Regions from separate parts of the Homo sapiens genome. Here all the other regions are linked to region 3. Evidence: fine-mapped expression QTL. A gene starts in region 3. Each other region holds a variant in brackets. All regions are shown on one strand. Distances are between the middles of the regions.

What was found.
Region 1: its variant is fine-mapped to the expression of PCBP1-AS1 in whole blood (TOPMed, PIP above 0.99).
Region 2: its variant is fine-mapped to the expression of PCBP1-AS1 in fetal neocortex (Walker 2019, PIP 0.91).
Region 4: its variant is fine-mapped to the expression of PCBP1-AS1 in whole blood (INTERVAL, PIP 0.97).

Annotation. Positions count from the first base shown.
Region 1 is chr2:70,063,213-70,071,315 of GRCh38, forward strand. All of the region lies in intron 4 of PCBP1-AS1 (PCBP1 antisense RNA 1), which reads right to left. It also overlaps a transcript of ASPRV1 not described here. Among named protein-coding and RNA genes, the nearest start is that of PCBP1-AS1, 20 kb to the right of the region's middle. RefSeq lists enhancers at 6,119-6,198, 7,645-7,939, 7,877-7,946. The variant G/C (reference allele first, on the strand shown) is at 4,046.
Region 2 is chr2:69,972,582-69,980,684 of GRCh38, forward strand. All of the region lies in intron 9 of PCBP1-AS1 (PCBP1 antisense RNA 1), which reads right to left. It also overlaps a transcript of ASPRV1 not described here. Among named protein-coding and RNA genes, the nearest start is that of ASPRV1, 15 kb to the left of the region's middle. RefSeq lists enhancers at 1-449, 3,154-3,665, 3,666-4,176. The variant C/T (reference allele first, on the strand shown) is at 4,316.
Region 3 is chr2:70,083,938-70,092,040 of GRCh38, forward strand. PCBP1-AS1 (PCBP1 antisense RNA 1) reads right to left here and starts at 3,078. Exons shown (of 11, transcript NR_033872.1): 1 at 3,041-3,078; 2 at 1,610-1,687. It overlaps PCBP1 (poly(rC) binding protein 1), which reads left to right and starts at 3,540. Exons shown (of 1, transcript NM_006196.4): 1 at 3,540-5,266. The coding sequence starts at 3,807. The coding sequence ends at 4,877. It also overlaps a transcript of ASPRV1 not described here. RefSeq lists enhancers at 2,137-2,276, 2,417-2,506, 2,547-2,756, 3,962-4,606, 4,678-4,844 and silencers at 2,967-3,116, 3,567-3,626, 5,653-5,702, 5,793-5,882.
Region 4 is chr2:70,010,139-70,018,241 of GRCh38, forward strand. All of the region lies in intron 7 of PCBP1-AS1 (PCBP1 antisense RNA 1), which reads right to left. It also overlaps a transcript of ASPRV1 not described here. Among named protein-coding and RNA genes, the nearest start is that of ASPRV1, 53 kb to the left of the region's middle. RefSeq lists an enhancer at 414-483. The variant G/A (reference allele first, on the strand shown) is at 3,944.

The sequences.
Region 1 (8,103 bases), 21 kb before region 3:
AAGACTCTCTACTTGGCACATGAGTGCCCCCTAACGCTGTCAAAATTTAAGAGCCAGGTCAGAAACCTTGATGCCCACTCCTACATACCTTCGGATCCCACCATTCACACACATCCAGCCAGTCTTCCAGTACTTTTTGCTATGCCTCACTGACAGAGTCCCGTACTATATTCTACAGAATACTCTCTCCCCAAAATTCAGAGAGAAATTCCACAGATTCATGTTGAACAGAGTCCTGAACTCCTAAGGCTGCTGAGGCCAGCTCCTATGCCTGGTTCAGTGGGAGGAGGTAGCCTGAAGAGAGCTCACTCCCTTCACCCTGTCTGAAGGAAGCTCCAGGACTACTGCAGGCTTCTGTACATGCAACTTGTTTCAAAGATAAGGGAGTTGAACCTGACATATTTAAAAGAATGGATAGGCTCTTGGCAGCAGAAATTTAGGTGGGGGAAAAGTTAAGGTAGGATTTCTGGGGATTTCATTTTAAAGTAAAGAGCCCATAAAATACAGAGAAAGTAATATACACTCTCACTCAAATCCTTGTATGTCAACTATCTGATCCTTTCTATAATCCAAAAGCTGGTTCCAAACTAAAGAGGTAAGAATGCTAAAAGATGATTTAAGTAATCCCCAAGATTATTTATGACTCTAATCCTGAATTGCTTGCCCTGTTCCTTCTTACACTCTACTCACTATCCAGGTGCTCCAGGTTTATGATTTAATGATCCTGCTTCAGCCTTGTCTCATCTTATCCTTCAGGCCTTTTGCTTCCTTCCTTGCTTAGAATTCTACTCCGCTGTCAGTTATTCTGCCCTCAGCTACCTGAAGTTAATAATATGCCTACCCAGATTCTCAACCTTTATCCTCAGGACACATGCTCCCTTCATGAGCAAGTGTTTTGTGTCAGGCTTACCCTGGTTTCATGGATATGACTTAATCATTTTAGATGGTTCATCCAGGCAAACAAGGGAATTACCAAAGATGGACGAAATAGGAAGAATGACAATGAACCAAGGGCCAGTGTTTAAAACTCACCCTGACATCCTAAAGCACAGCTTCCTAGACCTCAGGTGCTGCCCCCAATACTCTATCCCCCTCCCTAGTGCCCCACCTCAAAGGTCCTTCTAGCCACTGCTGATAAGCTTTGACTAGGAATTCATGGTGAGCACAACATAAGCTTACAGTCTAGTGAAGGACACAGACAACAAAATAATTACAATACATATGATAATTAATGGCAATGCATGCAGAGTTGTAGGATCAAGGCTAATCAGGTGAAGTTATATGTATACTAAGCTATAACTTAGATGATGAATAGGAGATATCCAGGCAGTGGCAGAGCATGGGAGGAAGGGTGTTCTAGGCACAATGAAGAGCACACGCAAAGGCCTTGCAGCAAGAAAGCACATCTAAAGAGATGTCATGAGCTGGAGGATGGGAAGGTCAAGATAGGTGACTGATGCAGATGATGCTGGAGAGGCCAAAAGGGCCTAATAGGACAAAGAAAGTTGTTTTACTATTCACTTCACAAGTATTGTCAATAATGTGTCAGACATTGTCCTAGGTGCTAGGAATACAACAATGAATAAAACAAACAATATCAGCCAGGCACAGTGGCTCACACCTGTAATCCCAGCACTTTGGGAGGCCAAGGCAGGCGGAACGTTTGAGGTCAGGAGCTCAAGACCAGCCTGGCTAACATGGTGAAACCTTGTTCCTACTAAAAATACAAAACTTAAGCCAGGCATGGTGGCACACGTCTCTAATCCCAGCTACTGAGGAGGCTGAGGCACAAGAATCGCTTGAACCCAGGAGACAGACATTGCAGTAAGCCGAGATCGAACCACTGCACTCCAGCCTGGGCAACAGAGCCAGACTCCATCTCAAAACAAAACAAAACAAAACAAAAAAAAGGCCAGGTGCGGTGGGTGGCTCATGCCTGTAATCCCAGCACTTTGGGAGGTTGAGGCGGGTGGATCATGAGGTCAGGAGATCGAGATCATCCTGGCTAACACGGTGAAATCCCGTCTCTACTAAAAGTACAAAAAATTAGCGCCTGTAGTCCCAGCTACTCAGGAGGCTGAGGCAGAAGAATGGCATGAACCCAGGAGGCGGAGCTTGCAATGAGCCGAGATGGCGCTACTACACTCCAGCCTGGGTAACAGTGCAAGACACCATCTCAAAAAAAAAAAAAAAAAAAAAAAGACAATATTCCTGTTCTCTTTTAATTGGAGAAGACTATAAACAAATATGTAAATAAACCAGAAAATTATAATATATTGATAAGTGCGATCACAGAATTAAAATCAGGTGATGTTAATAAAAGCATATGGGTAGATACTTTAGAATCATTAGATAGTCAAGGGAAGACCTGTCTGAAGAGATAGCATTTAAAAGCAGGGGCAGGGTGCAGTGGCACAGAGACCAGCTGTGAGACCTCGTTTCTACAAAAAATTTTTTTAAAAATTAGCCAGGTGTGGTGGCGCATGCCTTTAGTCCCAGCTACTGGGGAGGCTGAGGCAGGAAGATCCCTTGAGCCCAGAGCGGTACAGTCAGTTATGATCACACCACTGCACTACAGCCTGGGTGACAGAACGAGGCTTTTGACTCAAAAAAAAAAAAAAAAAAAAAAAAAGAAAGAAAAAGAAAAGGAAGGAAGGAAAGAAAAGAAAAATCAGGTATCTCAATAAAATGAAGTCATTAAAAGCTCAATGGAGGCTGGGTGCAGTGGCTCACGCCTGTACTCTCAGAATTTCAGGAGGCTGAGGTGGGAAGATCACTTGAGGCCAGGAGGTCGAGACCAGCCTAACCAACATGGTGAAACCCCATCTCTACTAAAAATAACAAAAATTAGCTGGGCATGGTGGTGCACACCCATAATCCCAGCACTTTGGGAGGCTGAGGCAGGACAATCGCTTGAAACTGGGAGGCAGAGGTTGCATGAGCCGAAATCATGCTATTGCACTCAAGCCCAGGAGACAGAGACTCTGTCTCCAAAACACAAAGCAGTTCAATGGAAACATCACTAACATCATTTTTTTTTTTTGAGATGGAGTTTCGCTCTTGTTGCCCAGGCTGGAGTACAATGGCGCAATCTCAGCTCACTGCAACCTCCACCTCCCAGGTTCAAGTGATTCTCCTACCTCAGCCTCCCGAGTAGCTGGGATTACAGGTGCCTGCCACCACGCCCAGCTAATTTTTGTATTTTTAGTAGAGATGGGGTTTCACCATGTTGGCCAGGCTGGTCTCGAACTCCTGACCTCAGATGATCCACCTGCCTTGGCCTCCCTCCTAAAGTGCTGGGATTATAGGCATGAGCCACTGCGCCTGGCCTCACTGACATCTTTTTAAGCAGGAGAATTATCATTTAAGCAATCATTCTTACATTTTACTTTATTTTTTTTTTGAGACAAGGTCTCCCTCTGTCACCAAGGCTGGAGTGCAGTGGCATCATTACAGTTCGTTGCAGCTTCAACCTCCCAAGCTCAAATGATCCTCCCACTTCAGCCTCCCAAGTATCTGGGACCACAGATGTTCACCAGCACCACACTTGGCTAATTTGTTATTTTTTGTAGAGACATGGTCTCACTATGTTGCCTTGAACTCCTGGGCTCAAGCGATCCTCCCACCTCGGCCTCCCAAATTGCTGGGATTACAGGCATGAGCCACCACGCCTGGCCCATTCTTCCATTTTATGAAGATCACTCTGGCTGTAGTGTGGAGACTGGAATGGAGGTAGGGGTGAATAAAATTAAGACTGGAAGCAGTGATGATAATGGATTATATAAACTAAGATGATGATAATAACAACTAAGATTCACATAGCAATTAGTAGGTACCAATCTATTATTCTAAGCATCTTATATATATTAATTCACTTAATCCTCAGAAGTACTCTTTTATAAATTTAAAAACTAACGTACAGGGCAGTAGCAATGGAGAGGGAAAATGATTAGATTCAAGAAATACTGAGGAGGTAGGGAGGACAAGTCCTAGTGACTGGTTGTCAGACGTGGGAAGGGAAGGAAGGAATGATTAATCATTACTG[G/C]GTTTGGGGCTTTAGCCGCTGCATACTGTCTATAATGTATATGATTGGGCACTGGAGAAGGAGCAAGTGAGAAAAAGCAGGGGGCTGCAAGACATCCCAGTGGGGTTGTAAGCAATTGGATAATCTGGTCTAGAGATCTGGGCTGGAGATTTGGGAATCATCCACGTGTAGATGGTAACTGAAGCTGCCAAAGAGGTTGAGATCACCCAAAAACTGGAAATACCTTAATGTCTTCATAGAAAAATAGCCAAATAAAATACAGCATATCCATTCTATGAAATACTATCCAGCACCAAAAAGAATGAGATATGCCTGTTTGTACTAACATGGAATACTGTCAAAGCATGTTATTAAATCATAGAAGAAAATACCAGAATGATACATAAGATGTTATATCACTTGTATAGAGAATTAAATAAAACAAAAAATAATACTTTAAATTTTTTCTGGGTTCATACATGTGTAAATAAACACACAGGAAGAAGTATGGCAGGTACATTCCAAATCACCAATACATTACCTCTAGTGAATACAGAAATAACTGAAATGGGGAGACAGGAATAGCCAAAATATGATCTACAATGTTTTGGTATTTTAAAAATATCATTTATTATATTCTCTGTAAATTAAATAATTTTTCAAAAAGATTGGGCAGGAGGAGAAGCTTACAAAGGTCATCTTTTGCTTCAGATACTAAATTCTCTCTGTCCTTCCCATCCTCCACTGGCCTTGAGGTTCACGTATTCTGGCTTCTCATCTGTCTACCTCTGAAATGTTAACACCAAGCCCCCTAAGTCCACACTCTATCCCAAATCCTTGGCTCCAGGCAAGCCCTGGTCACCAATCTCTGAGCCTGGGCTATAGCCCCAGGAGGAGAGATCAGACACCAAAATCGCAACACACACAGGGGAAATGGGTATAGATGCCAGCTTCAAGGACAGTGATCAAGTGGCCTTGCTGGCCTCCTGGCCAGCAGAAATTTCAAAGAGCAAAAGGTATCTGAAAGTATCTGGCCATTTGGAGGCAGCTCTGGAGTGCTGAGGAATGGGGCTGAAGTACAGTCAGGCAAAGTCAGGGGTGAAGTGGTAAGGAGTGGGTTGAAGAAAGAGCTAGTTTCACTTGTAAAGATTCCAAATGAAGTGCTGCAATCTTATGGAAACCAGGTTTACAGAAAAAGGAGGCGGCAAGCTGCATTCTGTGAGTCTGGCTGGAGAACGGGGGTTTCTAGGGGTATCTAGAGGAGTCACTTCCAAAGCACCAATTCCAAAAGGCACATTATGTAAAGGTTTAGTAGCTAGAGCAGCAGCAGGAAGCTAGAGATGTGAATAGAAAGGAGGTAAGGAAGATCTACAAATGAGGAAAGATGAAGGCAAGTTAAAGCCTTTCCTTCAGCCAGGCACAGTGGCTCATGCCTGTAATCCCAACACTTTGGGAGGCCAAGGCGGGCGGATCACCTGACTCAGGTCGGGAGTTCGAGACCAGCCTGACCAACATGGAGAAAACGCGTCTCTACTAAAAAAAAAAAAAAAATAACAAAATTAGCCAGTCGTGGTGGCACATGCCTATAATCCCAGCTACTCAGGAGGTTGAGGCAGGAGAATCACTTGAACCCAGGAGGCGGAGGTTGCAGTGAGCAGAGATTGTGCCATTGCACTCCAGCCTGGGCAACAAGAGCAAAACTCTTGTCTCAAAAAAAAAAAAAAAAAAAAAAAGCCTTTCCTTCGTCAGTAAACCAAAGGCAGAGATCATGGGCAGCTTTCTGGTGATTGTACCCTTAAGTTTCAACTTTCTATAGATGAAAGACAATGTATTTGGTCATGTTTTCCTGGTTACCCAAAAAATGACACAGCCCAGGCCTTACCCAACAGCTGATTCACCATCAATTAATCTGTATCACAGCCTGCTGAGCCTCACACCTCACACAGTCACACACTAGACAGCTCTGGGGGAAAAAAACAACCCAAGGTGAGCTGTCAAAGTCCTCTTCGTAACCTGACCTCGCCCTCTGGGGTAGGTTTCATTTCAAAACTGAAAGGGACTGAAGGGCTGGGGAAATCCAAAGATCAACAGAGCCAGGAACAGGTGGTTCCCACAGAAGCATCCCAGGTTGGAACTCAAAACAGAAACCAGACCACTGATAAGACATGGTTTATGATGTCTGTCTCCAAGCCTTCGGATGCCATTTATATGTTTTTGATATTTACAATAGGGCATGACCACATTTATCCAACTCCTGACTACTAAAAATCTAATTCTCCAAGTGCTCAAGCAACTTCCTGGTTTTATTACATTTTAGAGCTTCGGGGTAGCTCAATAACTGAGATACCAGGGAACTTGCGAATTCTTTAGCCCTTCAAATGGGCCACAAATAATGAATTTTATCTCTTCTTCCTTCTTCATCTCCCCACAAAGGCTTGGCAAAATTCCTGTCTCACTAAAAAGTTTCTAAGTTGTTCATAATGGCCCTCTCAATGGAGCAATATTCAATACACAAAAGTCTAGTTCATCAAAGGAGTCAGGTTATTTGCTTGAGGTTCATCTGTAACTAGCTATATGAGCTTGGACAAGTCACTTCACCTTTCTGAGTTCTATAAAGTAAGGAGGTTGGAAAAAAAAAGAAAGGGAAGCAATAAAACAACCTTGAACAGAAAAAAGACTTTAAGTTTTTAAGTCTAAAAGGCTCATCAAGTGCCAACAAGTGTTATTTTTAAAAGGCATACACCTCAGCCTGGCCAACACGGCGAAACCTCATCTCTACTAAAAATACAAAAATGAGCCAGGCGTGGTGGCACGCATCTGTAATCCCAGCTACTCGGGAGGCTGAAGCAGAAGAATCGCTTGAACCCAGGAGGCAGAAGTTGCAGTGAGCTGGGATCGTGCCATTGCACTCCAGACTGGGTAACATGAGCAAGACTCCATCTCAAAAAAAAAAAAAAAAAAAAAAAAGACATACCAGAAGCATACCACAGGAAACTCTAAGCATAAATAAAAATTCACAAACTTCCAGAACAAGAGAACAGATTATTACTTACAAGGAAAAAAAATCCCATTGGACTTCTCATCTGTATCACCAGAAACTCAAAACACTGGAAAGCTACTTAGACTTTGTCGAGACTAGGACTAGTATTCCAAGAATTCTAAACCTAACCACAATATCATTCATACACGAAGGTTAAAAAGAAATTGGACATAAAAAGACTTTGAAAGTACCACTCATGCCCCCCTTCTAAGAAAATCACTCAAAGAAATGTCCTACTTGGCTGGAAGTGGTGGCTCACGCCTGTAATCCCACCACTTTGGGAGGTCAAGGCGGGCGATCATGAGGTCAGTAGGTCGAGACCAGCCTAACAGTGCAAAATCCTGTCTCTACTAAAAAAATAAAATACAAAAATTAGCTGGGCACAGTGGCGCACGCCTGTAGGAGGCTGAGGCAGGAGAATCGCTTGAACCCGGGAGGCGGAGGCTGCAGTGAGCCGAGATTGTGCCATTGCACTCCAGCCTGGGTGACAGAGTGAGACTCCGTATCAAAAAAAAAAAAAAAAAAAAAAAAAGGAAATGTCCCAGGCAATTAACATTTAACTGTAACAAAGCCAGGAAAGACAAACTATATAAAAAACATGTTTCCCCTCCCCAACAAAAACCTTTTAATGAGTTTGGACCAGATGACTTCGAATGGCCTTTCCAAGTATAAACAGAAACTGCCCTGTACACCACAGTCCCTGGCAGTCTGGGTTTGTGAGTTGTTCATCACCTAGTGGCCTGATGAAGTAAATGCAGTTTGTCAAGTGCCCGGATAAACTTCCAGCCATTTTGTGAGCTCTGATGGCGTATGCAGCAGGGCAGCAGCCTGACCTCCTAATGATTACAAGAGTAGGAGACTGCAAACCCTCCAAACTCACAGACAATTGTAAAGACTTAGCTCACCATCAATTCATTCTTCAAGGAGGAAAGGAAAGCATACTCACCTTGTAACTAAATAATCCTAAGTGAAGCACAGATTTGTCAGACTGCATTTACAAAGTAGGGAGAAGTAGAAATTGTTTCTGTGCAGAATGATC
Region 2 (8,103 bases), 110 kb before region 3:
TCCTGACCTCAGGTGATCTGCCTGCCTCAGCCTCCTAAAGTGCTGGGATTACAGGCGTGAGCCATTCGCCGGGCCTGCCGTCCTCTCGGTTTTCATGAGTGTTCTGCAGTCCTCCTTACTCTTCCTCGTCCTCCCTGGTCCCTTTTCTTGGCCCCACACTGACTACTCTACTCAGGCCAAACCTTCACCCTTCCTCACTTCTCCACCTCCTGCTTGCAGAAGATGGCTTGCGTCCTGCTTGGCAGAGAAATGGCGAGCTCTCACTCCACCCTATCCCAGGTTTTCTTCACTTCTCATCCCTTTTCAGGGACTCTGTGCCTGGCCAGGCTAATCCTTCCACCTGAGGCCCCCTCCAACCTCCTCAGTAGCCTCTTTCCATCAGCCATTCCCACCCTCTTCTGGGAATCTTTCCAGAGTCAAATCTCTGGCCACTCCTCAGACTAAGGCAACCTGCCCAGTAGTATGCTGGTAGATGTTTAATTAACAATGAGCTCTCTGGGGAAAATGCATGCATATATACACATACATACATTTATGATAAATTTTATTGACATAAAGGATGGCTAATAATTTACAAATAATAAAAAATATATACTACTCTTTACTGTAAATTGCATATGGCCAGTTGGGTCTTACAGGATGCTTTCATTGATTTTTGCCAACCTGCTGAATCTATAACCAGCCTACAGTTGTAACTGATAAATGAATGTAGTTCCAACATGAATGTTAACTGATATTTTTGTTTGTACCAACTAGCAAGAAAAAAGTGAAGCCAGAAAGACAGATGTTGGAACTTCACTTGTTGTTTTTTTTTTACAGAATGGGTTGCCCAGAACTTGGAGTGCAGTGGAATGTTCATAGCTCACTGTAACCACAAACGCCTGGGCTCAAGAGATCCTCCTGCCTCAGATAGTGCACACCACGCCCAGCTAACTTTTTTATTTTTTGTAGAGAACTGGTTTAGTTATATTGCCCAGGCTGGTCTTGGACTCCTGGCCTCGAGCAATCCTCCCGCCTGGACCTCCCAAAGTGCTGGGATCACAGGCAAGAGCCACTGCACCTGGCCAGAACTTTACTTGTTTGTCAATGGTGTTAGCAATTTCTTTACTGAAGCAGAGAATAGTTTTTGAATACTGGAAGAATATTTCCTTCATTTTTCTGTGCCATTCACAATGCAATGGCCATTGGCAAAACATACATTTAAGTTTAATGTGCATTATTAGCATTTTCTCCATAACCTTCTTAAGTCTAGATAGTCAACCAAATAATGAATAAAGCCCTGATTTGTGGTGGTTGCTGCCCACTTCTGTGGTGTAAATATTCCCACTGTGGCTGATTTCAATCCACCAATATGATGTCACTGAATGCAGACTTGGGGAAAAAGCACAGTAACACAACATTATATAGTATTTCCACAGATGTAATAGATGTACATAATCTTAAAAGAATAAAGAATAATAAAATATAAAATTATTGCCAGGCATGGTGGCTCATGCCTGTAATCCCAACACTTTGGGAGACCGAGGCGGGCAGATCACCTGACGTCAGGAGTTCGAGACCAGCCTGACCAACAAGGAGAAACTCTGTCTCTAATAACAATACAAAATTAGCCAGGCATGGTGGTGCATGCCTGTTTTCCCAGCTACTCAGGAGGCTGAGGCAGGAGAATCCCTTGGACCTGGGAGGCGGAGGTTGCAATGAGCTGAGATCGTGCCATTGCACTCCAGCCTGAGCAACAAGAGTGAAACTCCATCTCAAAAAAAAAAAAATTATTAGGAAGTGATGGTTTTTGAAAATTTATTATTTTTGCCTTAATATAATTCATTTAATTGTAAGTTTATATAATTTAATTTATAATTTAATTTTTCATAATAGCTGGGTTTAACCATTGGTTCATGAAATTCCTGAAGATTTAACAATCAGCTCATAGGAACTGGTATGATCTGAGCACACCTGGATCTGAACCCCAAGCCCAGCTCTTCCTTGAGCAGGGCCCTCAAAAGGCTCTCCAAAACCTGATGGCCCTGCCCAATGTATATTTTTCAGATCTATCAGCGAAACTGAACTCATTTTCTTTCTCTCCAGTCTGCTCCTCTGTGGGCTGCCATGTTGGTGGAGGGCTTCGCCATTCACCCTGGGGTGGCAGGAGTTGTGGATGAGAACTCTGGACAGGAAGAAGGCTGGGATCAGAGGATGGGGATTTTGGAATTGTTTAGAGCAGAGGTGAAATAGTTTTGGGTAATGACAATGTTGGGTGGGTGAAGAGTCCCTGGGCTGAGGAGGGCACAGAACCGTAAGGCTAGGCTGTTCCTGGAGGTCGGGGTATGGGCTGATGGCATGTTCACACTCCTGTTACATCTTCTGTCAACTAGCTTCCCTGCAACAAGCTGTGTCTGACAGTCCTCCAGAGCTCCTGGGGCAGGGGTCCCAGAGCCGACTGTGGGTCACACGCGACAAACTCCCACACCCATATTCCTCTGGGATTGCTCCAGGCTAAGGTTGGATTCTCAGGCAGGAGGAAGGAGGATCAGCCTTGGCCAGAGGCACAGAAAGCTGCAAAGCCCCCAGCCCCTCCCTTGAAGGGCAGAGCTCCTTTTGAGGACAGAGAAGATCTGGAGGGGATGTGGAGGCAGGTGTTTAACAGAGGACTTGAATGTATCTGGGATTTCCATGGCAGTGATGCCTGGACGGAGGCCAGAGTGTCCTAGGTGAAGTGGGGGATTCTGAATGGAGCCCACAGACAGCAAGAGCCCAGCCTGCAACCCACCTTTCCTTTCACGTCACCTGACTCCCTGTCCGCACTGCTGCCCCTCGGCCTCCCTGCCGGTGCTGCTCCTCCCCCGAGAAGCTTCCCTGCCTCCTCCCATGTACTTCAGGGAACTGGTAAGTTTGGAAAGCACCCAGAATTACTTGAGGAAAAGACTGTAGCAAGTACAATTTGAATTTGCCAAGAGACTTTGCCACCAAATTCACTTGCCTAGAGAGAGAGGCGAAGTCCATGGGTTTCTCCCTGTGGTTCTGTGGCTTCACCGGGAAAATGTGGGCCTTGCTGAGCTATGGAGGGGAAAGGAAAGGAGCGTGAAGGAGACAGGAGGCAGAAGCTCCTCACAGTGCCCAGCACGCAGTAGGGGCCGAGATGATGTGCTGAATGATGGGCCTCATGGCCATGTGAGTGGAAGGCCAGGCAGAGCTGCTTGTTTAATATCTCCTACTCTTTCCCCCGTGGTCAGTGAATTTGCTTTTGGTTTTGAATTTGCTTTGGCTGAACCAGGGACAATTTCTACATGGCCTTGAGGCCACAGGCATATGTAGTCAACTGCACACCTCAGGGTGCAAGGGGTTACACCTGTTCCTTGCTCAAAAGTCATGGGAAGTTGCTAAACAGACCAAAAGAAGAACCAGCACGCTTACTGCTCTCCGTCCTCCCCTTCCCCACCCCACCCCCAGCTGTTAGCTCACAGAGGGTCAAAACAGGCAAGATAAAATCTGTCCAACTCACAGCTTCAAAGGAACACAAGTTAGACATGTGACCCAACCGCACCCAGCCTTGTCCCTCCCAGGTGCATGGCCCTGGAAGGCCCAACCCTCCGGCCACGTGGTCCGTGTAGAGGCCAGGTGGGCAAAGCCTTCCGTTCCAGACCCAGTGCTGCCCTCCCATGAGATCCCAATCTGATTTTGGTCTTCTTGTAGTTCTCCTTGGAAGCCAGGCCCAGCCCCACACTGCCTCCTCCTCACGCTCACCTGGCTCCCTCCAATCCGATCTGGGGCAGGAGGCGATGCAGACCGCAGTCTTCACCGCAACCTCGACCCTGAGGGCCCAGAGTCAGTGCTGGAGCCACCTACCAGGAGTCACTTCCATAGCCCTTGAGGCTGAATGAGAGCCCTCGGGTTCTTGGATAGCAGAGAACACAACCCAGACATGGCTCTGGATATGAAACAAATCCTTTCTGAACCTGACACCAGACTTTTCCCCAGAGGTGATTTTTTAATTATTTTTTGAATGCTTTCCAGATTTGACTGAATGAATGGGTGACAATGACCCTAAGTCATGAGCCTTCAAGGCCTGTACACTTGTGGGTTAAGAAAGCCCTTTCTCAGCCTGGCATGGCTGGCCCCCTCCCTTTCCCCCTCCAGGCACAGAGTGTCCTGGTAAGGTATGATGGCACAATACAGCCTCTCCACGCCTTATTTCCACCATCTCCTGTCACTGTGCCCCCATCAAAGCACACACAGAGAGAGTCCCAAATCAGACCAACCTATAGGAACAGAGTGCCCCTGACAAAACACACACACTCATACACCGAGGAGACACAAA[C/T]TGGGCAAAAATGGGACAGGCAAGGTGACTCATGCCTGTAATTCCAGCACTTTGGGAAGCCGCGGCAGGTGGATCGCCTGAGGTCAGGAGTTCGAGACCAGCCTGGCCAACATGGTGAAACCCCGTCTCTACTAAAAATACAAAACTTGGCCAGGCATGGTGGCGCGCACCTGTAGTCCCAGCTACTCGGGAGGCTGAGGCAGGAGAATCACTTGAACATGGGAGGAGGAGGTTGCACCACTGCACTCCAGCCTGGGCTACAGAGTGAGACTCTGTAAAAAAAAATAAAAAATAAAAAGGAAAAAAATTGGGCAAAAATGTAGAAATTCAATTTTACTGAACTTTTTTAAAAAATTATGGGAATTCCCAGTGTCTCAAAAGAAAATGACAACCTCCAGACAAGCACATTTAAGTAAACAACATAAAGGCACTGACAGCCACTGTGGGTGGGAAGTCACTGGCAATGGGAGCCCTGCCCCCTCAGGGTTCCGTCATTGTTTTGCAGGTGCGATTCCTGCTTCCCCCACCATTCTGTAAGTTGTGTAAGATGCTGTCGAAAGATCACGGGGCTGAAAGGCAGGAACCTCATGTTCCAAACCCAAGACTGGCCCGGTATCTGCGTGACCTTGGGCGAGGTCCTCTGCATCTCTGAACTATCGTGTCTCCATCTGTAAAATGAAGGTTGACCTTCCTGGATAATTTCGTCTTGGGTTTCTACTGTACTCTCACTCTACCTGGCCCATTACCACCTAGGAGGGGCCTAATAAATACAAATGAAAAGAAGTGGCCCCAAATGATCTTTTAGTCAATATAACCCCAATTCTGGTTTCAGCTAAGATTTGGATACAGAAAGTACCATTTCCCCACTAGTTCAATGGGAAAGTTGGGTGGAATGCATCTTTGGAGGGTCACAAAGTGGAAATTAGTAACTCCAGAGGGGGGAGTGAAGAAAAGGAGGTGACAAAGTAGCCAGTGGGACCTGTTGGTGTCACCCTGAGTTGTGTCATTCCAGGCTGTCTGGCCTGTCCTCTAGGTCATGAGCCCCAGAAGTGGGTCCATGCCCTTGGGTGGTGAATGACAAGTGTGGGTATGGATCCCCTAGACACTAAATTCAAACTCAGACATCCCCTACCCTGCCCTAGCCCATAAAGGAAGCAGGCTGGGGCCCTATGGGCTTCCTTTGCACAAATGCAACTGGCCAGGTGCCTGTTTCTGGCTACAACCCTCTGCAGGGCGGGTGTGCTGGCAGTCTTGGGGCTTAAGGCCAGGCAGTGATCCCAGCATTCTGAGAAATGCTTGCTCCAACCCCCAGAGAAGCTTCTTCCCCAGGGGGCTCTGTACTCTCCCAACACTCTTTCCACCCCTCCAAGCCTCCAGGGGAGTCTCCTTGGGGAAAGTTTTCCCAGGCTGGTTCTGAGCGTGGTCACACACTCATCCCTGGATAGTTGCCCCATAGAGGGGACACAACCCGGAGGGCCAGGGAGCTCAGTCTGAGAATGGGACCAGCACTGCCTCACCCACTAGGCCACCTTAGGAAAACAACTTTGGGCCCCATTTTCCCCTTCACAAAATGAAAACGACAGGCCCAGCCCATCAAGCAGTTATGCGGATTAAAGGAGATAACGCATAACAGCCTTAGGCCAAACCCAGAGCTACCTCCCGTTCACCCTGATGATTACGCAGAGCTACAAAAGCCCTCACAGATTACACCAACGACAAGCCACAGCAAGGCATGACAAGGTTAAGAAAGCCCTTTCCCAGCCTGACACGGGTGAGGGTGTCCTGGTGAGGCAGTGACTGGGAAAGGCCCCGAACACCGGAAGCAAACCTCGCGCCCTCCAAGGTGGTAGCAGCCCGTGGACAGGAGAGCCGGGCTGCCTCAGAGGTCATGGAACCCTCCCCTTCATTGCACAACTGAGGAAACTCCCAGACGATGGGTGACTTGTCAGAGGCCACACGGCAGGTCTGTGCCATTTGGACAAGAGGCCATATCTTCATATTTCTTCTCTGTGTGGCCAGATTATTTCCTTAGATACTCATGTGTGTTTCAATGGTTGCATTTTTCCTCCTCCTCCCATTCCAAGAAGGTCTTGGACCTGTCCTCTTTTGGGTGTCCCTGTTGCAGGGGACGTGTTTTTTGTTTGTTTTTGTTTTTTTGAGACAAAGTCTCATTCTGTCACTAGGCTGGAGTGCAGTGGTGTGATCTCGGCTCACCGCAAGCTCCACCTCCTGGATTCAAGCGATTCTTCTGCCTCAGCCTCCTGAGTAGCTGGGACTACAGGTGCATGCCACCACACCCAGCTAATTTTTGTATTTTTAGTAGAGATGGGGTTTCACCATGTTGGCCAGGATGGTCTCAATCTCCTGACCTCATGATCCACCCGCCTCGGCCTCCCAAAGTGCTGGGATTATAGGTGTGAGCCACCACGCCCGGCCAGGGACGTTTGAGTTTCAGGACCAGGCAGAAGCCACCCCAGGCCCTTCTCTCCTTTGCCTCTTTGTTTCAGTGTCTGGGCTCCTTGTAGTCTCTGAGGGAAGAGTCTTCGGAGAAAATGAGAACAGAGAGGGGAGGAGGAACTGGGGAGTGGGAAGAGGGCAGAGGCCTGTACTATGTCCCTCTGGGAGGGGCAGGACACAGAGGTGGGGAGGCCAGCCCTGGACATGGGACCCCCCTCAAACTGGGCACAAAGGCCCCCAAAATGGCCTGGGGGCAGAGTCTCAGCCTCATGAGGCCCTTGAGAGTGACAGGCCCCTTGCCTGTCCACATTTCTGGGCAACCTCCTGGATTCTTGGGTGACCCTCACTGGATGGGGCCTAAAAATGACCAAGATGAAGTTTCCTCCTCCTCAGGCACCATGGGAGCTCAGAGTTGGAGCTGAGTTGATTTCAGGAGCGTTTCCTGCCACCTGGGTTGGTGGACTAAGCTCCACGCTCTCCATACGAGGCACTGCTCAGTCCCCTTCACCACATTGCTCTCTACAACACCATCACCCACTTGGAGGATGCTTTACACAGTGACTTCACGATCATCTTCTAGTACCTGAACAGGCCTAAATTGTGCCCATTTAATGGGTGAAAAAACTAGGGCTCAGAAAATAGAATGAGATTTCCCCCTGCCGCTGGCCTGCCCCAGAGAGCAGGGAGCCTCATTGTCGCTGGGTTCCACCACCTGGGCAGGCCTCCGAGGGAGAAACCAAGTCTGTACAGGGAGCACGTGGGCAGCCTGCCCTCCCCCATGGCCCCTTCAGTGACTTAGTAGGATGCAGCACCAGTCACAGCTTCTAGATGCTCACCTGACTCTGGCTGTGTGTCACCTTGAGTGGAAGCTAAAGATCTAAACACTGACAAAAATTCCTGCAGGTGATTGAGAAATCAAAAACAAAGAAAAGCAACTGGCCACCAAACAGATGAAAAAATCCGTAAACTCATTAGCAATGAATTAATGCCCACTAAAGCCACATTGTTATTATTGCTATTTCTCTTTTAAGTTGGCAAAGTCTTTTTCTCATTCCCTGCAATGCTATTTGTGGGAATATAAATTTATATGATTTTCAAGTGTACATGCACACACATACATACAAATGTGTATGTATGTGTATATTTATCTAAGAAGTCTCACAAATATTCACACCCTAAATACAACATGCTATCCTGGAATGTATCCCAGAACAGTAAAGGACATTCATGGAAAAAATGATGAAATCCCAAAATATCTGGAGTTTACTTAACAGTATCATACCAATGTTAGTTTATTAGTTTTGGCAAATGTACCCTGGTTAGGTAAGATA
Region 3 (8,103 bases):
GGTCCAATGACCTCTTTGCCAGACCACAGCATCACCCAAGGTGTCTGTATGACATGTTACCAACCCCAAGACACATTACAATTTAACCAACGTCCAAACGTGGGCTACCGAAGGGAGAAACTGTTAAGACTCTCGGGGAAGGAGGGAGGCTAAGAGCTGGGGAAGCTGGGAAAGGGAAGGCTTCACTGAGGAGGTGCACTAAGTCCCAGGAGTACATAACAGGAAATTATGGAAATATTTCAGTAGGTAGTCTTGGAAAGAAAGACCTGACAGATAAAATTTTCTCTAGAGAAAAGAAATAAGTTAGATTTAAAAGACCAGAAGAAGGCTTTGTTTGAACATTCCTTGATTATATGCAATTTAGTCCTTTTGTTGTCACCTGAGTTTCTAACACTTGGTAATATTTTTAATTCCCTCATCTATTCTGTCTCCCTATGAGACAGGACTCTCTGCAGAGACCACATCCAGTTTAGTGGTTAAGAATGGAGTCTCTGGACTCAGATTGCCTAAATTCAAATCCTTGCTTTACCACTTAATAGCTGTGTGACCTTGGATAAATTCCTTCACTAATCTGTACCTCTGTAAAACTGACCTAATATCACCACCCATTTCAGGAGGTTTTGTGAGGATTAAATGTGTATAAGCGGTCACAACTTATTAATGGGTTTTTAATCACTTTATAATGTGTCCTTTTTATATATAAAGAATAGAAATTACCCAAGTACATATACTGCATGTAGTAACAAATATTGTTTTGCAAAAATTTTGTTACATATGTGTGCATAAATGTCTTAAATCATAATGTAAAATTTGTTTCTTAGTGGTTTTTTTAAAAATGTGAGACACTGAATACATAAAATAAGGCTTAGAACAATGCCCAGCACACAGTAAGCACCTAGTGCTGTAACTGTCATCGTTGCTGTTATGTACCTATTAAATGTTCGTAGAGTTATATAAACTAACATGAAACCACTTTGGAAAATATATCTGATAGTAACATAAGTTAAAGGCAAAAAGCCCTTCTCTTTGTCTCTCATATCCACACACAATCAGAGCCCTGCTCAGGCACCAGTTTGTTGCTTGGCCCACTAGCTACGTGTTGCATTGAACTGAAGAGTCCACAGACTGACCTAACACTCTGTCATGCTCTGTCAATCTCTGCAGAGAAATGGAGGCTTGGTGCCAGAGCGAATTTATTTTTACCTGGTTGGGGTGCTGGGGTGGGGGAGGCAAGAGTCAAGCCCATGGGGAGCTGACGGAAGCAAGTCAGTCATACAAAAAACCATTTGCTCCCCCAGAGGCAGGTAGGCTCAAATGTGCCACAGACAGGGCCAGACCGACAGACACCTGAGCCTCTGGGCAGGCTGAATCACTTCCCCCTCCCTATCCTCACCAGACACTGCATAAGACAGCATTTCAGCCCGCCCGCCCGTTACAGGTGTAGCTCTTATCAGGAAAAGCTGGGAGCTGCCTGATACAAAAAGGGGCTGACTGCACAACAAAAGATTACCTGAAGGGCTCATTTAAATGACAAGCTCACCTAAACGTTTTAAATAGTATTTAAATTCCAAAACCCTGATTTACAGAAAAACCTGGAAAATGTGCTCACCAGTAAGGAAATCTGGAGGTCCATCCCCGACATTGTGTGACCTTGAATTAAGCACTTCATCTTTATGTTTGTCTTCCTCTGTTTAAAAGAGAGAGAGAGAGAGAGAGATAAGAACACCTACCTCAGAGGACCATGGTAAAAATTAAAGATAGAATACGGTGAACTGCCTTGCATCGGATGTGCTGGCACTGGCCAATGCACAATAAACGCCTGTCCCTTCTAGACTAAAAATGAACACTTAATTGTGGTAAACTATTAATAAGATTCACCGGCCAACTGTCCTATGAAAAAGTCAGAGGCACTGTAGTCTCTTCGTAGCTCTCGTTCTCTCCAGCACAACAGCCCATGCTAGGAAGTCTAGAAAAGCAGTAACTTATCTCATTCCTTAAATTAAACAGAGGTTTCTAAATGCTTTGGTACTGTGGGGACCCAAATTATCCCTTGATACTGCCCCCCTATTATCCACTATTAAGCTTTAAAAAGGCGAGAGATTAAATATTGTGCCCACATTTTACAGTCATTCGCGTTCCCGTTTCAAATTAAAGGGAGGAAAACGCGTTAAAATTAGGCCTCCGACCTTCAGACCAGCCTGTGGGCTTTTTTAAGTCATAAAACTCGCGGAGGTGGAAGGCCCCGGGGAGGAAGAGGGGTGCATTCTAGAGCTTTCGGGCCGACCCCAATTTCTCGTTGGCGACGAATGCTAACCACGTGTCGCCATTTTGTGTTCAGGAAACATGGCGGCCGCCCCAAGGGTAAGGAACAGGGGAGGCGGAGTAGCGCCACGTTAGCCGCTTTCCCTGAGAGATTGTGAAGCACGTTGCGCACGGGGCCCTTTCTGGTCTGGCTTAGCCCAAGGAGGAAGGGGAAAAGGCAGAAATCACAACTCATAGGCCAGCGTCTTGAGCGACACTTCCTCAGCGGGAAGAACCGGCAAAAAAGGCCTTCCAAGATGGCGGGCCCTGACGGGGCCGCCCCCCTTGAGCCTGGCGCAGTGGCTGCGCCCATGGGCCCGAAAAGCAGCCGCGGGAGCCCAGGCCGCGCGGGGAAAGCCGCAGAAACGTCCTGAAGCCCTGGCCGGCAGCCCCTGAACAAACGAGGCCTCCACAGGCGTACACTATTGTTTCTAATGTCGGAAAAGGGTGCCGCGGTGGAAACGACACAAGGGCAGGAGGTGGGGTTTCTGTGGCTTTAACCGAAAGAAACTTGCGAAACGCAAACAAAGCATTATGTAAATGGACGCCATTCTTTTTAGGACCACGTTTCTAGCACGCCCCACAAACAGCAGAGCCGCGATTCGGCAGGCGGCCGTGAGTGGGTTTCGGTCTTTCTGCCCACCGGCCGCCGCCGGGGAGCAGGAGCTGGGGTGGGGGATCCATGCAGGGCGCCCGGACGCCGGGGACGAAAGGGCCCCACGTGCCCGCCCGCGCGCACCCGCTCCGCAGGCCTCGCCTCGCCGCCCCTCCCCCCCGGAAGAGGGCTGCTGCCCCTCCCATCCCCCCACACCCTCGCGCACGCGCTCTGGTCACCTCACGCGCATGTTTTAAACCCGCGGCGTCCCGGCTTGTGCCTGCAGTTTCCGCCGGGGCTGCCCATGTCGTTCCGCGCACGAGCCCCTCATGTAGGGCAGGAAAATAATGTCTATCCCGCATACACAGCACTAGTATTTTCAGTCACCCGCCAGTGCCGTTAGAGTTAATAAAATACGTCATCATTTTAAAACTTTGCCGGACTCACAGCTTCCGCCCATCGTGCGCTTCATTTTCACTACTGCAGTGTCAGAAGGTTTTTTTTTTAAGGACCATGTAAGGGTTGGCGCAATCTTGTGACCTAAAAAAGACGGGTCCTCATTTTTTTTCAAGGGGTCCTGCGCAGCAAGCACTTCCGGGGTCAGAGGGTACGCGGGGTTGAAAGCGGGCTTCCCGCCCCGCCCAGACCGCCGAGGCTGCCGCCGGAGTCGCCACCGCCGCGCCCTCGCCCACCCGCCCGCCCGCCGCTCCCGGCCCCGCTCGCCCCCTCCGCCGCCGCCGCCCGCCCCTGCGACTACGCTGCGGCCTCCCGCCCGCTCCCGCTCGCTCCCGCGGCCCTCGCTCGCCTCGCGCCGGCAGTTTTGGGCCTACACCTCCCCTCCCCCCGCCAGCCGCCAAAGACTTGACCACGTAACGAGCCCAACTCCCCCGAACGCCGCCCGCCGCTCGCCATGGATGCCGGTGTGACTGAAAGTGGACTAAATGTGACTCTCACCATTCGGCTTCTTATGCACGGAAAGGAAGTAGGAAGCATCATTGGGAAGAAAGGGGAGTCGGTTAAGAGGATCCGCGAGGAGAGTGGCGCGCGGATCAACATCTCGGAGGGGAATTGTCCGGAGAGAATCATCACTCTGACCGGCCCCACCAATGCCATCTTTAAGGCTTTCGCTATGATCATCGACAAGCTGGAGGAAGATATCAACAGCTCCATGACCAACAGTACCGCGGCCAGCAGGCCCCCGGTCACCCTGAGGCTGGTGGTGCCGGCCACCCAGTGCGGCTCCCTGATTGGGAAAGGCGGGTGTAAGATCAAAGAGATCCGCGAGAGTACGGGGGCGCAGGTCCAGGTGGCGGGGGATATGCTGCCCAACTCCACCGAGCGGGCCATCACCATCGCTGGCGTGCCGCAGTCTGTCACCGAGTGTGTCAAGCAGATTTGCCTGGTCATGCTGGAGACGCTCTCCCAGTCTCCGCAAGGGAGAGTCATGACCATTCCGTACCAGCCCATGCCGGCCAGCTCCCCAGTCATCTGCGCGGGCGGCCAAGATCGGTGCAGCGACGCTGCGGGCTACCCCCATGCCACCCATGACCTGGAGGGACCACCTCTAGATGCCTACTCGATTCAAGGACAACACACCATTTCTCCGCTCGATCTGGCCAAGCTGAACCAGGTGGCAAGACAACAGTCTCACTTTGCCATGATGCACGGCGGGACCGGATTCGCCGGAATTGACTCCAGCTCTCCAGAGGTGAAAGGCTATTGGGCAAGTTTGGATGCATCTACTCAAACCACCCATGAACTCACCATTCCAAATAACTTAATTGGCTGCATAATCGGGCGCCAAGGCGCCAACATTAATGAGATCCGCCAGATGTCCGGGGCCCAGATCAAAATTGCCAACCCAGTGGAAGGCTCCTCTGGTAGGCAGGTTACTATCACTGGCTCTGCTGCCAGTATTAGTCTGGCCCAGTATCTAATCAATGCCAGGCTTTCCTCTGAGAAGGGCATGGGGTGCAGCTAGAACAGTGTAGGTTCCCTCAATAACCCCTTTCTGCTGTTCTCCCATGATCCAACTGTGTAATTTCTGGTCAGTGATTCCAGGTTTTAAATAATTTGTAAGTGTTCAGTTTCTACACAACTTTATCATCCGCTAAGAATTTAAAAATCACATTCTCTGTTCAGCTGTTAATGCTGGGATCCATATTTAGTTTTATAAGCTTTTCCCTGTTTTTAGTTTTGTTTTGGGTTTTTTGGCTCATGAATTTTATTTCTGTTTGTCGATAAGAAATGTAAGAGTGGAATGTTAATAAATTTCAGTTTAGTTCTGTAATGTCAAGAATTTAAGAATTAAAAAACGGATTGGTTAAAAAATGCTTCATATTTGAAAAAGCTGGGAATTGCTGTCTTAAACTCTTTGTTGGTGCCTTTTTTTTCCCTCCCCTTTTAGCCTGAGGTGTTTGGAGGGAGGAGGGAGAAGGGTGGGCCCGTCCTTGGTATTCTCTCAAGCTCTTCTCACCTTATCGGTAAGATTCCATTCCCTCTGTGCCCCAACAAAGGAACATGGCAGGCTGGGCCTGCTTTGGGATGTTTCCAGGGACAGAGAGGTTCAAGTTCCAGAGAGAGGCCTCTGCCCATTTCTCTGGTAGAAACAAGGTTTTCTCGAGGGGAAAAGGTGTGCCCACTCAGTAGGACCTCTAAATGGCAGAGCGTCCTCTCCATCTAACCAGTTCCCCCACCCCCACCTCACAGGATAAACTTAGGAACAAAAAAATATTCTGGGGTGGGAGGAGCCTGGGGAAGGGGTGTGGGGGCAGGGAAAGGAAAGGAAGGGAGGGCAGTGGGCCGGGGAGGATTGGGGGCTTGGAGGAGGGCAACAGCTGCCGGGTGGTGGTGGGACTAGAGGGGTCTTGGTTGGGCAGCAGGGGTGGGAAGGGGGGAGGGGACGGTACCAACGAGACGCACGTGTCAAGCATGCACCTGTGGCAAGCAGCCTGTCAGAGGATGTTATTACACCTGCCAAGTGGTGTATCCAGAAACAAAAGAGGCCCAGTTTCCAATTCTTCAGCTGTGTGCAATGTTTAGAGAATCCCTATACCAGGAAATAATCCTGCCTAAATGGGTCAGTCTTCACAAGGCGGGAATGTAGACTGATGCACTGACTATAACCTAAGAATGATCTGAGTGTTAAAGATGCAGATTCCTCTGTCCCACCCCAAAACTAATCAGCTGTATTTTTAACAAACACCCCAAAGGAGTCTTAGATTTGAATGCCACTGATTGTCTTCAGTGGAGGAGGAAGATCCCGCTGTGAAGGCCGTAGCACCCTCACGCCCACGTCAGCCAATAGGACTATCCCTGACCTGATGAGAGAAGGAAAACTGCTAGGCAAAGGCAACATTAGAAACAATAGTATGAGAAAATAGAGCCTGAGATGAGGGAAAGAAGAAACAATAGTATCAGACAATAGACCAGTAGGTGCCAAAGTGGGTAGTTCAAACCCCAGGCACTATGGGAGATCACTCATGGCAAAGAGAAGTTCCTGTGGGAGGGGAGTATTATCCACAGTAAATATTCGTTGAGGCTTATTATGTGGTCACGCAGGGTTAGGCAAGCAGTCACTGAAAGGAGCCCAAATTCTGGAGTTAGACTTGCTTTCAAATTTGAGTTCTGCCTCCTATTCATGGCTTTGGACAAATTAATCTCTATAAATGAAGATGTTAAAATTAACACCTTCTGGGCTTGTGAAAATAAAATGAAAGCATGTATATAAAACAGAACAGTGCTTAGAACACAGTAAATTTCAGTGTACTCGATTATAAAAAGCCAAAAGGCCCATTTCTGGGGGCTGAGGGTTGGCCACAAAATCTGGGCAGAGAAGACAGATGATTAAAAGGTAGGAAACAAAGCAATGTGTATTAAATGAGTTGGACTGAGAGGCCAAGACAGGTGGGGAGGGAGGGGGACCTAGTGAAGACCCAGAAGTGGGTACCATGCCTTCTGGGAACAATAAGCACAAATCCAAATCAAGGCAAGAGGGGATATAAGCTTGAACCCTCAAACACCAAGCCAAATAGTCTTTGAAGAATCCCTGAAATGCTGGGTGAAGCAGTTTGAATGCCCTATGAAAAGCAGGTCTTAATACCAAAAATTAGGCCAGGTGCAGTGGCTCATGCCTGTAATACCAACACTGGGAGGCCGAGGTGGGCAGATCACTTGAGCTCAGGAGTTTGAGACCAACCTGGGCAACATGGTGAAACCTCGTCTCTACAAAAAAAAAAAAAAAAGAAAAAAAAATTAGACAAGTGTGGTGGTGTGCACCTGTAGTTCCAGCTACTTGGGAGGCTAAAGTGGGAGGATTGCCCTGCACCTGGGAGGTCGAGGCTGCAGTGGCCTGTGATCATACCAATGCACTCAGCCTGAGCGACAGAGCAAGACCCTGTCTCAAAAAAGAAAAAAGAAAGAAAAGTAGGCCTCAGACTTTCCTGAACCTCCTCCCCACTGCATCTTATACTGGGCAAAGCTGGCAATAATTTGTAAAATAATGATTTAGGCAGCAAGGCATAGGACGAATTGCTACTTGGAAAGATGAAAAGCAAGAATAGCAGTTGGCAAACTACCTCAAGGAAGAAGCAGGTTCTAATATAGGCTGGCAAGTGGTATCAATAGGAATGCAAGGAAAGGAACTAGGCAATGGCAGAGATATTGAAACTGGGTGTGGAGGCCAGAGGAAGATGTAAAAAGGGGGAGCAATGAATTCAGGCACGGTGATAGAAGTATATGCAGACAGAAATAGTCAACAAGTAGCTAGAAATAAGACTGAGGTGAAGTCAAAGCTGCATAGGAACAGAGGTAAATGAGGGGAAGGGACTAGAGATGGAGTTTTGGGGTATTTCGTTGGGTTGAAGGACCTAGTTTTCTTATTCACTGGGTACCCTAGTACCTGTCACCATACCTGACACATAGCAGGGACTCAGTAAATATTTGTAAAGTGTATATGGAAGAGGCAGCCAGTGAGGACAGAAGGAATAGTTGAAGCAGCAGGAGAGAAATCAGGAGAGTGCCCTTGAGAGAAGTCAAGGAGGAACAGTCCAGGGCTGACGGAGTGACAATAATGCTGTAAGGAGGTTATTTAACAGATTTGATTGAGCAGCTACTGTGGGCAAAGTACTCTGAACTACATCGTGCTGTTGTGGTGCGCTTGGAAGATGTCTAGTAGCTGATTATAGTTAAGAGTATGATCTGTGGTA
Region 4 (8,103 bases), 74 kb before region 3:
CTGGGGATGCCCAAAATGCTCATGGGATGAGGGTATGTGAACTAGACAGGGGTCTAGTTCCCACACTGTCAAGTAGGGGCACGGGAGATACACAAGTGGAAAAGCTCTAAGGACGTGATAAGGGCACAAGAGTCCAGGTGTGTGTACAGGTGGGAAGCACAAGAGAGGGAGCCACAAAGTCTACAGGGGAGGGGCCAGGAAGGTCTCCTGAACAGCTGACGTGGGGTGATTCACAGTTGGATAGATAGGCAGTAGGGATTTGCGTGGCAAGGGTGGAGGGCACAAGGAACTGCATGTGCAAAGGCCTGGAGCTGAGAGAGTGAGCAAGCAGCGTTGGGGGGAACTGAAAGCAGTTCAAGCTGATGACAATGAATACAGGGGAGTGGCAGACAACGAGGCCACAAAGGTTGTGTTTCATGATAAGGAATTTGGACTTGATCCTGCAGGCAGTGGTGAAGCTCACAAGAGAAGTATTTAACAGGGAAATTAAATGATCAAACTTTCCAGTAACGTTTTTCACCACAACACTCCCATCTCTTTTAGTTAACTCCCACCCAGGCTGCAGTCTGAACATGAGAGCTGCTTCCTCCAGGAAGTGCTCCCTGAACACCCTCAGACTCAGCCCTCAGTCAAAACTTCTAGGGGTTCCCAAGCACCTCTGCCATCTTTCCCCACTGCACTGGGTCCTAATGACCTGTGCCCTGTCCTTTTCTCTCCTCCTTCATATGCTGTGAGTGCTGGAGGTCAGGACAGTATCTGTTATGTCCTATGTTGTATTCCCACAGCCTGCACAGAGCCTGGTATGGTAAGTACTCGATATGTATTTACTTAATGAAAAACACATTATCCTTAGCAAACTAATGCAGGAACAGAAAACCAACTACCACATGTTCTCACTTACAAGTGGGAGCTAAATGATGAGAACTCATGAACACAGAGGGGAGCAATACACACTGGGACCTCCTTGAGGGTGGAGGGTGGGGGGTGTGGGAAAAGGGAAAGGAGCAAAAAAAATAACTCTTGGGTACTAGGCTTAGTACCTGAGTGATGAAATAATCTGTACAACAAACCCCTGTGACACGAGTTTAACTATATAACAAACTTGCACATGTACCCCTGAACCTAAATTAAAAGTTAAAAAAAAAAAGTGTGAGAAGATAACTCTTGTGGTTTCCAACCAGAACTGTAGAGTACAGGTTGAAAACAGGGGGCAGGGGGCCAGGGAGAAGACCCTTGCAATCGTTTAGGTGAGAAGGGATGAGCGCCTGAGCTGAGGCAGTGGTGGTGGGGCTGGAGAGCAGGGAGAGATTGGGAAAATGTTTAGGAGGCAGAACTGATAGGCCAGGTGAGCAGATGAGGGAAGGGAGGGAGCCAGATAAGGGGAGGAGGACTCCTGGGATTCTGGCTTAAGCATTTGAGCAGATGATGGATTAACCAAGACTGTCTATTCTGGAAGAGGAAGCAATGTGTAGGGGAAGACGAAGAAACCAGTTTAGACATGCTGACTTTGACTTGCCTGTAAAGCATATAGGTGGAAAGGTCTCAGGTGGAACCACAAAACTGGAGCCCGGGACAGACATCTGGATTGAAGATAGAGATTTGGGAGCTGTCAGCCTGCAGGTGATGGTTAAAGACCAGGGAGGAAATAAGATCATCCAGGGAAAGGAGGAGGAGACGAAACAAGAAGAATGCCAACCTGTAAAGAGTGAGGGGAAGAGGAGCCACGGAGAGAAAGGGAGGCATGAGAGAGGGAGGAAAAGCAGGAGCTGAAAGCAGCATCACCGCTAAGGGAGAAGCAGCTTCGGGGGCTAGCAAACAGGGTCCAACAGTGTGAAGAAACAGAGCCTGCCCAGGCCTCCCTTTACAACTGAGGAAAATGAGGCCGAGGGAGGCTGATGGAGGGTGCTGGAGGCATGTGCTATTAGTACCCATGGTCGTATAGGCCATGGCTCTCAAATTATGATCCCTGGACTCCTGGGTCCCCAAGACCCTTCCCGGGGGATCCAAGAGATCAACATCATTTTTTTTTTTTTTTGAGATGAGTCTCGCTCTGTGGCCCAGGGTGGAGTGCAGTAGTGCAATCTCGGCTCACTGCAAGCTCCGCCTCCCGGGTTCATGCCATGCTCCTGCCTCAGCCTCCCGAGTAGCTGGGACTACAGGCACCCGCCACCACGCCCGGCTAATTTTTTGTATTTTTAGTAGAGACAGGGTTTTACCGTGTTCGCCAGAATGGTCTCAATCTCCCAACCTCATGATCCGCCCACCTCGGCCTCCCAAAGTGCTGGGATTACAGGCGTGAGCCACCGCGCCCGGCCAAGGTCAACATCATTTTTATAATAATACCAAGAGTTTTTCTGCAGCATTCACTTTGCGGACATTTGCACTGATGATGCAAAAGCAACAGTATTTGGTGCCTTCTAGAGCCTTAAGTCAATGAAGAGGCACCAAACTGCACCAGGAGTCACAGTCTTCACCCCCATGTACTTGCAGTTCAACAGAAAGGCAAACTTAATGTAAAAATGTCCATGATAGAGTAATAATTATTAATTTTATTAAAACTTATCCCTTGAATACATGTCTTATTAATACTCTGTACACAAAGCACTTCTGCTGAATACCTAAGTACTGGAAGCACTTACCTGATTGTTTGAATTACAAGCTGACTACTTGCTTTTTCATAGAACATCATTTTTATTAGGAAAAAAATGACTAACAAACTATGATTATTCAGACTTGGGTATTTGGCAAACATTTTCTCAAAAATGAATTAAGTGAACCTGTCACCTCATAGAAAACAACTGACAGTATTTGTTGCCAACTGTAAAATTTGAGCTGTCAAGTGAAGATTTAAAATTTTGGAAAATGTGTATCCATGCTGGTAGATACCTAAAGACTTCTTAACACCTCAAGACTTTTCTGATGAAATCAGTGGTAACACTGACAAATATGTTTTTGATATTATAGACTGAAATGTGCCTACATTTAGAAGATGTGAATAATTCACTGAACCATCATTTTCAAAATGACGAATGCATGATGTTACAAAATCAGGCATGAATAAAAGACCCATTCAAAGTGCAAGATAGAGCAATGAAGTTTAATATAGAAAAGTATGAGTTCACTGATATGGATTCAACTAATTTTTTACACACATTACAACTAATTTTTCAGAAACTGCCATTTGTCTAATTTTGATGACATAACAAAGAAGAGTATCCACCATGATCTAAAAAGGTTATTAAAATACTATTTTTTCCAACTCCAAATCTGTATGTAGCTGGATTTCCTTCATCTACTTCAATCAAAACAACATACACAACAGACTGAATACAAAAACAGATACGAGAATCCAACTATCTTCTATTAAGCCAAACATTAAAGAGAGTTGCAAAACTATAAAATGATACTACTATTATCTACATTTTTTTGTTGTTTTAGAGAAGACAGCTGTTTTTATAAAAAGTATGTTGGCCTGGTGCAGTGGCTCATGCCCGTAATCCCAGCACTTTGGGAGGCCAAGGTGGGTGGATCACTTGAAGTCTGGAGTTCAAGACCAGCCTGGCCAATACGGTGAAACCCCATCTCTACAAAAATTAGCCGGGTGTGGTGGTGAGCACCTGTAATCCCAGCTACTCAGGAGGCTGAGGCATGAGAATCACTTGAGCCTGGGAGGCGAAGACTACAGTGAGCTGCAATCGCACCACTGCACTCCAGCCTGGGCAAAAGAGTGAAACTCCGTCTCAAAACAAACAAACAAACAAACAAAAAAACAGTATGTTCACATGTAATGGATTCATTGTTGTTACTTTTAAATCATCAGTTTCTAATATGGCATTTTTCCAAAATACTAATTTTAATGTTTATCATATTTCAGACATGGTAAATATTGTTAAAACCACTAAATAAAAGTTATTTGGGGTTGTCTATAATTTTTAAGAGTGTA[G/A]AAGAGCATATCATTGGATTTGTCAATGATTTCTTGAATATAACACCCAAGGCACAGGCAACAAAAGAAAAAATAGATATATTGGACCTCATGAAAATTAAACACTTTTTTGCATCAAACAGCACTTTCAGCAGAGTAAAAAAGGTGATGCACAGAATGGGGGAAAATATTTGAAAAGCATATCTCTAGTATGGCTTAACATTGAGGATACATAGAGAAATTTAAATATTCCACAACAGAAAAACCAAACAACCCCATTCAAAAAAGGGCAAAGGAATTGAACAGACATTTCTCCAAAGAAGATATACAAGCACAATAAGCCCACAAAAAGATGCTAGAAATCATAAAAAGCATGGGGAAAAAAAAGGAGACATATGGGACTACATCAAACTTAAAAATTTCTGTGCAACAGAGGATACAATTAGGAGTGAAAAGGCAGCCGGGTGCAGTGGCTCACACCTGTAATCCTAACACTTTGGGAGGCTGAGGCAGACAAATCACTTGAGCCTAGGAGTTCAAGAACAGCCTGGGTAATATGGTGAAATCTCATCTCTACAAAAAATAAAAAATTAGCCAGATGTGGTGACATGTGTCTATAGTCCCAGCTATTTGGGAGGCTGAGGTGGGAGCATCCCTTGAGCCAGGAAGGTCGAGACTGCAGTGAGCCACATTCACGCCATTGTACTCCAGTGATAATAGAGCAAGACCTTGTCTCAAAAAAAAAAAAAAAAAAAAAAGAAAAAGAAAAAGAGTGAAAAGACAACCCACAGAATGGGAAAAAACATTTGCAAATCTTATATCTGAAAAGGATTTACTATCCAGAATATATTTTTAAAATTCCTACAACTCAACAACAAAGGGCAAATGCCTTCATTTTTAAAATGGGTAAAGGACTTTGAATAGTCTCCAAAGAAGGGACACAAATGGCCAACAATCATATGTAAAGATGCTCAACATCACTAATCATTAGAGAAATGCAAATCAAAACCACAAAGAATTATCACCTCACACCCATTAGGTTGGATACTATCAAAAATTTAAAAACAGACCCAACTATATGTGGCCTATGAAGATTAACTTCACATTTAAGAACACACATAGAATGAAAGTGAAAGGCTAGAAAAAGACATTTCAGGCAAATGGAAACCAAAGAGAGCAGGGGTAGCTATACTTAAAACAGACTAAGTAAAAACTGTAAAACAAGACAAAGAACATCATTACATAATGACAGAGGATCAATTTATCAAGACAATATAACAACTGTAAATATACAGCTGACCCTTGAACAACACGGGTTTGAACTGCACAGGTCCACTTATATGCAGATTTTTTCCAACCAAATGAGGATCAAAAATACAGTACTCACAGGATGGGAAACCCATGTACATGGAGGGCCAACTTTTCATATACAGAGGTTTCGCAGGGCAACTGTGGGACTTGAATGGTGCAGCTTTTGTTACACACAGAGGTACTGGAAGCAATCCCACACCAAGGGACAACTGTAAATACATCCAACATCAAAGCTTCTAGATACATAAGGCAAATATCAATACATCTAGAGAGAGAGAGATTATAATACAATAATAGTAGGGGACTTTAGGCCAGGTGTGGTGGCTCACACCTGTAACCCCAGCACTTTGGGAGGCTGACGTGGGCAGATCACTGGAACTCAAGGGTTCAAGACCAGCCTGGCCAACATGGCGAAATCACATCTCTACTAAAAATACAAAAATTAGCTGGACATGGTGGCTCCCACCTGTAATCTCAGCTACTCAGGAGGCTGAGGGAGGAGAATCACTCGAACCCGGGAGGAGGAGGTTTCAGTGAGCCGAGATTTTGCCACTGCACTCCAGCCTGGGTGACAAAGCAGGACTCCATTTCCATAATAATAATAATAGTAGGAGACTTCAATAGTCCACTTTCAATAAAGCCAGAAAATCAAAAAGGAAACATCAAACTTGAACTACACTTTAGACCAAAGGAAACTAACAGACATAAAGAACATTCCATCCAACAGCAGCAGAAAATACATTCTTCCCAAGTGCACATGGAACATTCTTGAGGACAACTCACATGTTAGGCCACAAAACGAGTCTTAATAAACTTTAGAAGACTGAAATCATACCAAGTATCTTTTCTGACCACAATGGTATGAAACTAGAAATAATAAAAAGAATTTTGGAAAATTTCACAAATACAAAGAAATTGAACAACATGCTCGTGAACAATAGCCAGACAAGGACACTACAAGAAAAGAAAATTATAGACCAATGGGACTACATCAGCATAGATACAAAAATCCTCAATAAGGCCAGGTGCAATGTGGCTCACACCTGTAATACCAGCACTTTAAAAGACTGAGACAGGAGGATTACTTGAGCCCAGGAGTTTAAGGCCTGCAGTAAACCAAGATTATGCCACTGCACTCCAGCCTGGGTGACAAAGCAAGACCAGCAAACCAAATTCAACAACACATTAAAAAGATCATCCAGGCCAGGCTCATGTCTGTAATCCCAGCACTTTGGGAGGCGAAGGCAGGCAGACTTGAGGTCAGGAGTTTGAGAGCAGCTTGGCCAACATGGTGAAGACCCATCTCTACTGAAAATACAAAAACTAGCCAGGCATGGTGGCAAATGCCTGTAATCCCAGCTACTCAGGAGGCTGAGGCATGAGAATTGCTTGAACCTACGAGGCAGAGGTTGCAGTGAGCTGAGATCACACCATTGTCCTCCAGCCTGGACAACAAGGCAACAGAGTGAAACTCTGTCCCCACCAAGGGAGAAAAAAAAAAAAGATAATCCATTATGATCAATTGGGATTTATTCCTGGGATGCAAGGATGGTTCAACATATACAAATCAATAAATATGATACACCACATTAACAGGAGGAAGGACAAAAGCCCTATGATCATCTCAATTTTTTTTTTACACGGAGTCTGGCTCTGTCACCCAGGCTGCAGTGCAGTGGCGTGATCTCAGATCACTGCAAGCTCCGCCTCCCGGGTTCATGCCATTCTCCTGCCTCAGCCTCCCAAGTAGCTGGGACTACAGGTGCCCACCACCATGCCTGGCTAATTTTTTTGTATTTTTAGTAGAGACAGGGTTTCACCATGTTAGCCAGGATGGTCTCCATCTCCTGATCTTGTGATCTGCCCACCTCAGCCTCCCAAAGTGCTGGGATTACAGGCGTGAGCCACCACGCCCAACCTGATCATCTCAATTGATGGAGAAAGGTATTCAACAAAATTAAACATCCTTTCATGATTAAAAACTCTCAATAAATTAGGCACAGAAGGAATGGACCTCAACACAGTAAGGGTCATGTACGATAAGCCCACAGCTAACATCATATTGAATAGTGAAAATTGAAAGTTTTTTTCGTAAGATTAGTAATAAGACAAGAATGCTTATTTCAGACACTTCTATTGAAAACAGTATTGGAAATCCTAGCCAGAACAATTAGTCAAGAGAAAGAAATAAAATTTGTCCAAATCGCAAAGGAAAAAGTTAAATTGTCTGTCTGTTGATGACATGATCTTTAGATAGACAATAGTAAAGACTCACCAAAAAACTGTTAGAACTGATAAACATATTCAGTAAAGTTGCAGGATACAAAATCAACATGCATTTGCTTGTCTGTTAGTATTTTTTTAAAAAAAAGAAACAAAATCAACATGCAAAATTCAGTAGTGTTTATATACAATAACAACGAACTATCAAAAAAATGAAGAAAACAATCTCATTTACAATAGCTATTTAAAAATACTTCGGAATAGGCTGGGCGCAGTGGCTCGCACCTGCAATCCCAGCACTTTGGGAGGCCAAGGTGGGAGGATCGCCTGAGCTCAGGAATTTGAGACCACACTGGGCAACATGGTGAAACCCCATCTCTACTAAAATACAAAAAATTAGCCAGGTGTCATAGTGCGTACCTGTAGTCCCGGCTACTCAGGAGGCTGAGGCACGAGAATCACTTGATCCCAGGAGGCGGAGGTTGCAGTGAGTCGAGATCACGCCACTCCAGCTTGGGCTACAGAGTGAGACTCCACCTCAAAAATAAATAAATAAATAAAATAAAATAAAATAAAATAAAATAAATGAATAAAAAATACTTAGGAATAAATTTAATCAAGGAAATGAAAGATCTGTACATGGAAAA